Homo sapiens: one gene and its partner. The protein of the gene in region 1 purifies or fractionates together with the protein of each later gene. This does not show direct contact. Each region holds a gene or a part of one and is shown in the gene's direction. Other genes may lie near its edges.

Region 1 (4,278 bases):
TGGGCTCAAGCCGCCCTGCCACCTCAGCCTCTCAAGTAGCTGGGACTACAAGTCTGCCATCACTATGCCCAGCTAATTTTTGTGTTTTTAGTATAGAGAAAGGGTTTCTCCATGTTGCCCAGGCTGGTCTTGAACTCCTGAGCTCAAATGATCCACCTGCCTCGGCATCCCAAAGTGCTGGGATTAACAGGCCTGAGCTCCCATGCCTGGCCTTTTCTTTCCTATGGTTAGTATTTTTGTGACCTATTTAAGAAATCTTTGCCTGCCCAAGATGTTCATGTTCTTCTGGAAGCCTGTTTTAGCATTCACACTTATGTCTATGGTCCCTCTTGAATTAGTTTTTGTACATGGTGTGAGGCTCAGCCTGACCTCCCTGTATGATGTCTGGGATCCAGGCTACCTGCCTATGCATCCTTCTGGGTATTGGCAGACCCTGGTGATAATACAGCACACCCCTGAGGTGATCCCAAGACTGCCAGGAGGGAGAGGTTATCCATGGAGCTCAGCATCATTTATTGACTTAATTCCTACCATGGTGCTTGGCTGTGGGAGAAGCAGAAAATGCCCTGGACAGCCTTCACCAGGAGCAGCTGCTATTGGAAGAACTTTACTTAACCCTTCAAATCTCATTCCTACACCTGCATAGGCCAAGAGGCCCTCCCCAAATCCTCAGTTCCTGGCCCTCAGGGCTTTGCCCATGAACTCTGGTAAGTAAGTGAGTGAGTGAGTGAATGAATGAAGTAACACAGCCATCCATGCTTGCATTCCGTGTCCCCTACTCTGAGCCAGCCTCTCTAGCTAGGTTAGGGGTTCAGGGTGCAGGCAATGGAAGCCTCCGACAACTCCTCTTGGGTTTGCCTGTTTCCAGTGCAGCTGCTCCTGGACCATGGTGCTGATCCTAACCAGCGAGATGGGCTGGGGAACACGCCACTGCACCTGGGTAAGCATGTCAGAAGTCACTAAGACAACTCATTTGCAGCAAAGAAAGGCTCTTTAGATGAAGAGGGTGGGGCCCGGCATGCTCCTGGCAGAAACTGTGAGTGTCAGGGAAGATCCTAGGCCTGCACTCCCAGGGCTGCACTGCCCAGCAGCCTGTGTCCCATGGGCCTTCCAATCATTTAGCAGTTGGCTGTGCCCTCGGCAGAGCCAATTTAGCAACCTAGGCTAGCCCAGCAGCACTCAGCACTGTGGCTCACACTGAGGCAGATCCTATCTCCAGGCCTCAGTTTCCTCTGCTGTACAGGGAGGGAGTTGAACTTGACTTCTGAGTCCTACCTAGCTGTGCCTTGGCGATACCTTCTCAGTAGGCATAACTTGGCACAGGCGTCTGGGAGACACAGCCCTGCTCCCTCCAGTGGCCACGCAGAGCCAGGCTCTGGTGGTCCTGGATTCTTAAGTCTCTGTTGTTCTTCCTCAGCGGCCTGCACCAACCACGTTCCTGTCATCACCACACTGCTACGAGGAGGTATGTGGTTTCTTCCCCTCTCTGTCCTCTTTCTCCCCCTCACCCCCAGAATGCTCACCTCAGCTGGTACCTGCAGGGGCCCGTGTAGATGCCCTGGACCGAGCTGGTCGCACACCCCTGCACCTGGCCAAGTCAAAGCTGAATATCCTGCAGGAGGGCCATGCCCAGTGCCTAGAGGCTGTGCGTCTGGAGGTGAAGCAGGTGAGTACCCCTTCTGTGTGGAGACCACGGCACCAAGGCAGCACTGGACAGATGCTGCCCTAACCACAGACACACCTGCCTCTGGTCCCAGGGCTCCTGGGTTGTTTCACACTGACCCCAGTTGGCACCTGCTCCACTGTGCTTTTTGGAAGCAGCATCAGCCTGTCTGCCTCCCTAGGAACCCAGGCAGCTCAGCTCACCCTCTTGTTCCAGATCATCCATATGCTGAGGGAGTATCTGGAGCGCCTAGGGCAACATGAGCAGCGAGAACGCCTGGATGACCTCTGCACCCGCCTGCAGATGACCAGTACCAAAGAGCAGGTGAGCTGCAGCCACAGGCCCAGACCCAGGGCCTGGCAGGAGCCTCAGGGCCAGTCCACCCTGCTCCGATGCCACCAGACACTCGTATCAGAAAGAGGCTGTGGGCTGGGGCCAGCCGCAGGGGCTCACACCTGTAATCCCAACGCTATGGGAGGCTGAAGTGGGAGGATCACTTGAGGCTAGGAGTTCGAGGCTGCAGTGAGCTGTGATTGCCACTGAACTCCAGCCTGAGTGACAAAGCAAGGTCCTCTCAGAACATGTGGAAAAAGGCAAAAATTATAAAAACAACAAAAAAAAAAACCAGAGCAAGGCCCTGTCTCAAACAAAAAAAGTGGGGGAAAGAGCCTATGATTGTGGGGTTGCAGGCTTCAAAGCCTCCGTTCACTTCCTTTGAAGTTGCCAGTGGCTAGTGTGTGTTCATGGCCCTGCCCTCTAGGACAGCGCTAGGCCACCTGGTGTCAAAGATTGACCCTTGGTCAACTGCTGCGTAGTCAGAAGCCACCACACGCCCTGGGAGGAGAGACCGTGCCTGTGTTCTGTGCCTGTGGGATTGTGGAAGAGACCCAGGAGCCCTGGCACACCCCGTGTCCCATAACAGAGCCTCTGTTCCGTCCTGCAGGTGGATGAAGTGACTGACCTCCTGGCCAGCTTCACCTCCCTCAGTCTGCAGATGCAGAGCATGGAGAAGAGGTAGCAAGAGAGGCTCCCTGCCTTCCTGCCACTGCCCCACCCTGCCCCACTGCTGTCTCAGTACCAAGAAAAAGCCCAACATCTGGGACTTGGAGCTGCACTTGTCTGGTGAGGACCTTGCCCTCACCCGCAGATGCCGTGGGGCAGAGATGCTCTCTCTCCACGGCCTCAGAGCCACTCCCAGCCACAGTTTCCAGCATCTCTGTGGACAGGGACCACAGCTCCCAGCTTCTTCCAGTTCTCGCAGCACCAGACCAGCCTCTGCAGCTGCACTTCAGCTCCGCAGACCTGCGCTATCTCAGCAGACCTCACTTGCCCCATGGCCTTCATGGCGCGCTCCAGGCCTCAGACCCTTCTCTGTGTTCCGTCCTGGCCATGGGCTTGTTGCAGTCAGCAGGTGTGGGCTTAGGCGGGCACCCTGTGGCCAGGGGTACTGCGTGAGGCCCTCAGTTGGTCCTGTGCCTCTCACCAGCACTTAGACAGACACGTCACCAGACTTTCAAGGAGATACTGCAGTGAGTTTCTCTGGTTGGAAGGGGAGGGTTGGTGAGTCCCAGACCTTAAAAATACAAGGTTAAGAGGGACCCCAAAGCAAAAAATTCCAACCCTTTTCCTCCCAGTCATTGAAACACCAAAACTATTATACCGGAGGGTGTAATAGTTTTGCTGCCCAGTTGTGGTAGGCCAGTAGTGGCCTCCCAAGATGCCCATGTCCTAATCCCAGGAACCTGTCAAAATTACCTTGTATGGCCAAAGGGGCTTTGCAGATGTAATGAAGTTAAGGATCTTTCGCCAGGAAGATTATCCCAGCTTGTTCAGGAGGGCTTGATGTCCTCACCCGGGTCTGTATAACAGAAGAGCAGGTGACGGGAGAGGAGGTTGGAGGTGTAGCGATGGAGCAGGAAACTGGAGTTGAGGAGGGCAGCTCAAGCCACAGAGTCCAGGCCACCTCAGAGCCAGGAAATGCATCCTCCCACAGAGCCCTGGAAGGCCCCAGCCCTGCTCCCACCTGGACTGGCTCAGTGAGGCTAATTTTATAATTCTGGCTGATTTTAGAACTCTAAGGGAATAAATTTGTGTTGTTTTAAGTCACTAAGTGTGTGGTAATTTATTGCAGCAGCAACCAGAAACTAGTATTGTAGTGAAGCCCCAAAAACTCACCTTGAGGTTCAGTCCTGTCAGCAGCCCCGCTCCCCGCTGCAGGAGCACCAGTCCTTTGCTGTGGGCCATGGACAGGCAGAAGGAAGCGTGCGCTCCTAGCGGAGGCCTGCTCAGGGAAAACCCAGGGGATGGCACTGCTGGGCCCGCCCCTGCCCCAAGGCTGCTGATGGTGACTTTCTCCAGGTGATCAGTCCGTGTCCCGCCTGGCTCTGCCCTACTCTCCCCTTCACCAAGTTGGAATCCCTGTCTACCTTTCAGAGGAGGAGAGTGTGTTCCCCAAACCCAGCTTGGTATGGCTCAGATCTGCATTGAACTCATAGAACCTAGGCCAGGCCTTGGAGGAAAAAAGGGTCTGTCTGTGGGTATGAGATGTAGGGTAGGCCTGTCCCCAGGACCCTGTGAGAGGGAAGCCCAGTGCCCCACCAGGTTGGCAGGGCTGG
Region 2 (5,887 bases), on another chromosome or scaffold:
TGAGCATTCAGGCTCCGTGGGGAAGTCGGGCTGATTTTAAATAGATCCCGGTTTTCCAGGCTTGGAGCTGAACGGCATGACGGGGGCGGACGTGGCCGATGTCCCACCCCCTCTGCCTCTCAAAGGCAGCGTGGCAGATTACGGGAATTTGATGGAAAACCAGGACTTGCTGGGCTCGCCAACACCTCCACCTCCCCCTCCACACCAGAGGGTAAGTCGGCAATCTGAAACACAGGCTTTCATTGCTTCGCCTCCACAAAGTAGGACGAGTCCCTCATTCCAGATACTAGCAGGTTTACTTCGGGCTAGTGAGCACATGAGGAAAACCATGTATGATGGGCCCGGGTTTGATTTTGCAAAAAGATATCGAAGCAGTAAGGACTCCAGTGGGTAAGATCTGTGGCTCTGCGTCATTATCAATAACTGCATCAAAAAGCACATTTTGATATCATGCCTCAGAACGAGGAAGAGGATAGACATTCCAAGGTTGTCATCGGTTATCATCACCATGGAGATCATTCCACTGGAGATGCAATTCTAATGACATTTTGATTTTTGAGAAGTAGCTTTTCTATCAAGAGGTCTGACTTTTTAAAGAGGTTGGCCAATATCGCCCTGTATGGCAGGCACCTGTTGTACACCTGCTTGGCCCTGGAGAAGCTTGTCTCCAAACATCCCTCCAGGCAGCCTCACCTGGTGCTGGGAGCTCCTGGGTGGTGACAGGCACTCACCTTACGGAGACTGCAGAGGACAGCCAGGTTTGGCTCCTGGGCACAGTCATCCTCACTGTGCCCCCACCCCTGGGCACCCTCCCCAGTGCTAGTTCGGGGGTGCTGACCTGGCTTCCTCCAGCAGCACTGGCCTTTGTAAGCCTAAGCAACCTGCTGGAACCCCTCTTCAGCGTGAGTCCCTGAAGCTGGTACCCCCCAGCAGCTGTTTTAGTCATTCATGCCACCCAAAGTGCCTTGTGCCAAACAGCCCCTGGGCCTGCCTGCCCGTACAAATATTAGTCAAAGTCATGAAAAGCCATTTAAACAAGCACCTCAGTTACCAGTTGACAGTTCTAGAAACATTCTTTTGAGATCCACCCCGTTCCTCTCCTGGTTCTCAAGGATGCTGTCAGGCGTCACTCATCCCTGCGGGTCCCAGCCCCATCCTCATGTCGGGCCCAGGCATGTGTGGAGGGCAGCATGAGTGGGATGGAGGCGGGCGAGCGATTGACTCAGCCACGGCGGGAACTTCTGCTTCTAGGCTCAGGCCTCCCCAGGCCATGTTATTCACAGCCTTTGACAATTAAATCAGTGGTGTCTGAAGGGTAAAATATCCCTCTTCATATGTGGACAGCTGGCCGTATTTTTTTTGCTATCCAGCCTTAGTGAAGTAATTATATGGCCGCAAAACTCCTGTAGAACATTGAAAACATGAGATTGTTGGGTGGCTCTGTTTTTTTCATAATGGTGAGACATGGTTTTTTTTTTTATTTTTCTTTAATAAACAATATAAATCCCACGTGCCATTTCTTTTTCTTTTTTTTTAATGGAGACTCGTTGACGGAGTGTTCCACAAGGTCATTACATCCCTTATGAGAGGAGTGGAAGAGAGAGGGTGTTTGTGTACAGCATACGTATTTCATCATTCCCTTTGTATCAGAAAACTAAACAAGCAGTCATCTTTAATATCAAAGAGGCAGATTGCTCTTCTGAGACCCAAGTGCCATTTAAACAGGCTCCCTCTCCCTAGAGACGCCTCGATGGGGAACCGGTCCTGGAGGAGGCACCAGGTTCCCCTGTGAAGAGGGCTTTCTGGCAGGCTGGAATGGTTTGTTGCACCACAGAAATGGAAGCCGGACCTTCCCCGGCCATTTCTAACTACTTGTGAGAGTAAAAGGAGATTCGGGGGGGTCTAACAAGAATATTGGGTTGCTTGGAGTATTGTTTCCCTAACAGCTTCGTTAATTGGTCACATTCTCTTCTCTCTATTTTATTGCAAAGGCAGGAATGTTCCCCCTAGTCTCCCTACACTAGTAAACTGAAAATTCTAAACTTAGAATTACAGCCAATTCCTCTTCTTGTTACAAATCAACTCCGGGGTAACATTTTATTGTCTCAATTTCTTGGATACACCATTGTGGGTTACTGATGCCACATACAGTTGATTAAGTAAGGGATAACATGGATTAGCTCTCTCTCAATTGATAAAGGGCGTGTGAATTCAATTAGATTAATGACCCAGGTGTCTTTGGTCTTTGTTTCTTGTTTAATTTACTTGCAGCCTGAGTGCATGCTCAGGTGACACGCTGGTGGTTAGTATGTCATCATTAGGCAGAAGCGGTTGCATTTCCTGGGGTGCCTCCCTTTGCACAGGCCCTGAGAGCTGTTCTAGGATAATGATCATCCATCTGCCATGATGGGGGTGTGATCAATATCCTCCTGTCACTCTCATTGATCAGCCTCAGGCTTGTAGGCAACTCTGTCTTTAGTTGTTGCCACTAAGCTGTCATTTCTTTCCAAATGGCTCTTCCTGTCAGTAATCTGAGCTTACTGAGTTTATCACCATTAATCATTTTGCTTAATGGTGATAAACTTTTGACATGCTCATACTTGGCATAGAGGTCATTTGCAGCGCTGTGTTGGTATCAGGCTGTGTTAGTGTGGTCCTTACCTGCTCCTCATTGGCCTATCAGTGAGTGTGGCTTTCACATGTAAACAAACAGTTTCATCAGACCTCAAAATAGATGTCTCTTTTAACGGTTCTAACCAACCTTAAAAAGACTTAATTGTTGTTTTACCTTCCTTAATATAAGGTCATACACTCATAGGACATCTTTATATCAGCTTTACTTTTCCACATTTATTCTCCTCTCTGTGTTAAGCATTAGGTCATTTTTGTATTTACTAGTCTGTGAATCAGGAGGAAATCTGGGCGATGAGTGAGAGACTACTGCGTCACTGTCTATCCTTGAAAACCTCTTTTCTCACATTCAGCTAAATGCAAACCCACACTGAGAGGCTGATAAAAATCCACTCTTACCCTTAAGTTAGACGATAGTGTTCTGTGATTTCATTCTGGTTCTTCTGCCTGTGGCATGCTCCCACTTACCCTGGTCTGTTCACTTCTTCATTCATTTGTTTACTTACCTGTTCATTTCTTCATTTATCCACTGACTCGTTTATTCACTCATTCATTTATTCACTCATTCATCCATTTTTCTATTCGATTGACCCATATTTCTAGAGAGTCTCCTGCACATCAGGTGTGTGTGATGGGCATGAGGGTCCCAAAAGCAATAGGGTGCAGCTGCCCTCAGTCATAACACTCCAGCCAGGTCCATCAGCAAGGGGTTTGCTATTATCTTCACATTGGAAATTAATGTTCTTTTTTGGAATCTAAAGTAATATATGCCCATGAGCTGAAGCCAGCCAGCCAGCCACCTGTTTCTGTGAATAGTTTTCTTGGAACACAGCCACACCCCTTTCTGTACACACTGTCAATGACCGCTTTTCGGCCACACCAGTGGCATTGAGTGGCTGCAACAGAGACCGTGTGGCCTGCCAAAAAGCTGGAAATATGTACTGTCTAGCCCTTTCCAGGAGAAGCTTGCTAACCTTTGCCCGAAGCTCAGAAAGCAAAAGAAGGTCTCTCATCTCACCCCTGGAGAGTGCCTCTAAGGACTTATTTATCCCTTAGACAATAGATGGATAACTTGGTCGATAGCATCTAGATTTAAAAAGGCCACGCAAAGGGCAATGGTACCTCTCAGGGGCTGTGCAGACGGTGGGAGAGTGCTCAGAGGCGTCAGAAAGGCCCAGGCCCATAGCAGCCCAGTCTTGAGCCTAGTAGACCTGCCAGCCCCAAGTCGGACAGGATGGAGCCCAACTCATGTGGGGAGGATGGTTCCGGCTGAGTGGCTGTGCCAGGTCAGACCCCACCTGGAGACGGTGTCTTTTCTGTCAGGACATCAGTTATGTGACATCTTCCCCATCCTCATGTTTTTTAGCATCTGCCACCTCCACTGCCCAGCAAAACTCCGCCTCCTCCCCCTCCAAAGACAACTCGCAAGCAGGCATCGGTGGACTCCGGGATCGTGCAGTGACGTCGCAAGCCTCTCTGGAAAGAGTGTGCTGCCCCTCCCCATCTCCATGCCCTCTCCTTCTGTGTCCCCTGAGTCTGCTGTTTACCTCATTGGGCCTGTGATGTTAACATTTCGTGCGACTGCTTTTTCTTCAAAGGAGTTCAGTTCTCACCATGGAGTGAGTGGCCTTTAGCGTCATGGAGCAAGGTGGGTCTGGGAGGTAGATATGGGTCCGGGATGTGCTATCGTAGTTATCAGAGTTGGGGGCCTCTGAGTGTGTCTGGCTCTGAGAGAGTCTGAGTCTTGCCCAAACATTCTTTCTTTTTGTGCCAAATGACTTGCATTTGCAAAGAGCTCAATTGCTCTGAGCTCAGCCAAGTAGGAGAGGCTAGGCCATCACTCTTAGGAAGCTGTGTAGTGATGATGTATAAGAATCCTCCTCACTGTCATGGGATGTTGTATCCAGCCCCTCCTTGTTCCAGCCGGTGGTGTGACTTCGTTGGTTGAGGTGTGTCTCCAACCTACATCAGACCATGAAGTTCAACCCCTCCAGGGAAGCTCCTGATTTCCCCTGCATAATTGAAAATAGGATATTTCTCAGCTATTGAACAGTTACTAATTTATGGGGTGGAAACAGCATTAAGAATACTGAATCAAATGGAAAAACAAATGAATACAGGAAGATAAGTGTTCGTTCTTTTCTGAAAAAGAGTATGTGTACCACAAGAGCTGGTTTTAATTGGGTGAATTGTTTTTGTCCTCATTCTGTACAGAAATTTGTATATATGATGGTTCTTAGAACTTGTTTTAATTTTTGTGGTCCTTCCGTTTATTATAATAGGCGTCCACCAATGATTATCCATATGTGTTCTTAATTTTTAACTGCTGGAAGTGTTAAAACACACACACACACACACACACATTTTTTTTTTGAGAACTCCAAAGTCCTGAAAATTTTGGTGGACAATGATTTTTAAAAAACTAACTTTGTATAACCTAATATTTGTATTCTCTCATCTATATTTTTTTATTCACTATAATCATGATACTCTTCTAATAGACTTAAAAGTTAATCATTGACAACGAAAAATAAAATGTTATTTTAAAAGACTCACAGTGTCTGACCAATTATGTTTTCATCCTTGATTGTAAAATACAGACGCTGCTGTTTCTGTTCTGCTATGTTAAAGTGCTTGGTGACACACATTTATATATGCACCTCTTCCTCCAACATTGTTTTTAATCCTCTCTGTTAATTGTGTCTGATCTGGAGCCCAGATGGGAAGTGCCCGTGTCCCGTGCATGGCTGCATGTCCTGATAGACAGGAGCTAAGCAGAGACCAGCTGAGTGCTTCCCCATCACCAAAGCCAGAGGGCTGTGGGGCTGCAGATCATGTGGGCCTCTTTTCAGCTGCTAATTTAAGAAAGGGCTTTGGTTAATGGGTGTGTGATTTAGCTGTAGAGGTCTGGACATGGAGAGCTTTCTCCAGGGCCTATCTGGCTGGATCTGGGGTGGCAAGAAACAAGGAAGGCAGGGGGTTCTCTTCTCAATGGACGGGGCTCTCACCTCTGCTCCTGCCAGACGTGTGGAAGCCATAAGGATGTGCCCTCTGCCCATCTAACCCGGCCTAGAAGGAGGCTGCTGTGGAGCCCAGGAAGCTGGGAGGCTCTTCCTCCTACTCAGGTGCTGTCCCCAGCGTATTCATGCTTGTAAATATCCAGTCCACCCCTGAGAAACTGTAGGCCTGTGTGAATGTGGGATTTTTTTCTTCAAGAATCTTTACTGTTTCAACTGTTGCACCAAGATAAATATTC

Evidence for each region.
Region 2: the proteins of ANKRD54 (region 1) and DOCK1 purify together in Homo sapiens (affinity purification with mass spectrometry; 2 studies listed by BioGRID and IntAct, with this or other methods). This does not show direct contact.

The regions. Positions count from the first base shown.
Region 1 is NC_000022.11:37,830,346-37,834,623, reverse strand, and holds the end of ANKRD54 (ankyrin repeat domain-containing protein 54), read left to right. Parts: intron 1-646; coding exon of another isoform or gene 647-707; intron 708-868; coding exon 869-940; intron 941-1,417; coding exon 1,418-1,465; coding exon of another isoform or gene 1,466-1,541; coding exon 1,542-1,666; intron 1,667-1,879; coding exon 1,880-1,987; intron 1,988-2,606; coding exon 2,607-2,681; 3' UTR 2,682-3,769; downstream 3,770-4,278. UniProt on the Homo sapiens protein: Plays an important role in regulating intracellular signaling events associated with erythroid terminal differentiation.
Region 2 is NC_000010.11:127,447,335-127,453,221, forward strand, and holds the end of DOCK1 (dedicator of cytokinesis protein 1), read left to right. Parts: intron 1-59; coding exon 60-211; intron 212-3,997; coding exon 3,998-4,093; 3' UTR 4,094-5,182; downstream 5,183-5,887. UniProt on the Homo sapiens protein: Involved in cytoskeletal rearrangements required for phagocytosis of apoptotic cells and cell motility. Along with DOCK1, mediates CRK/CRKL regulation of epithelial and endothelial cell spreading and migration on type IV collagen.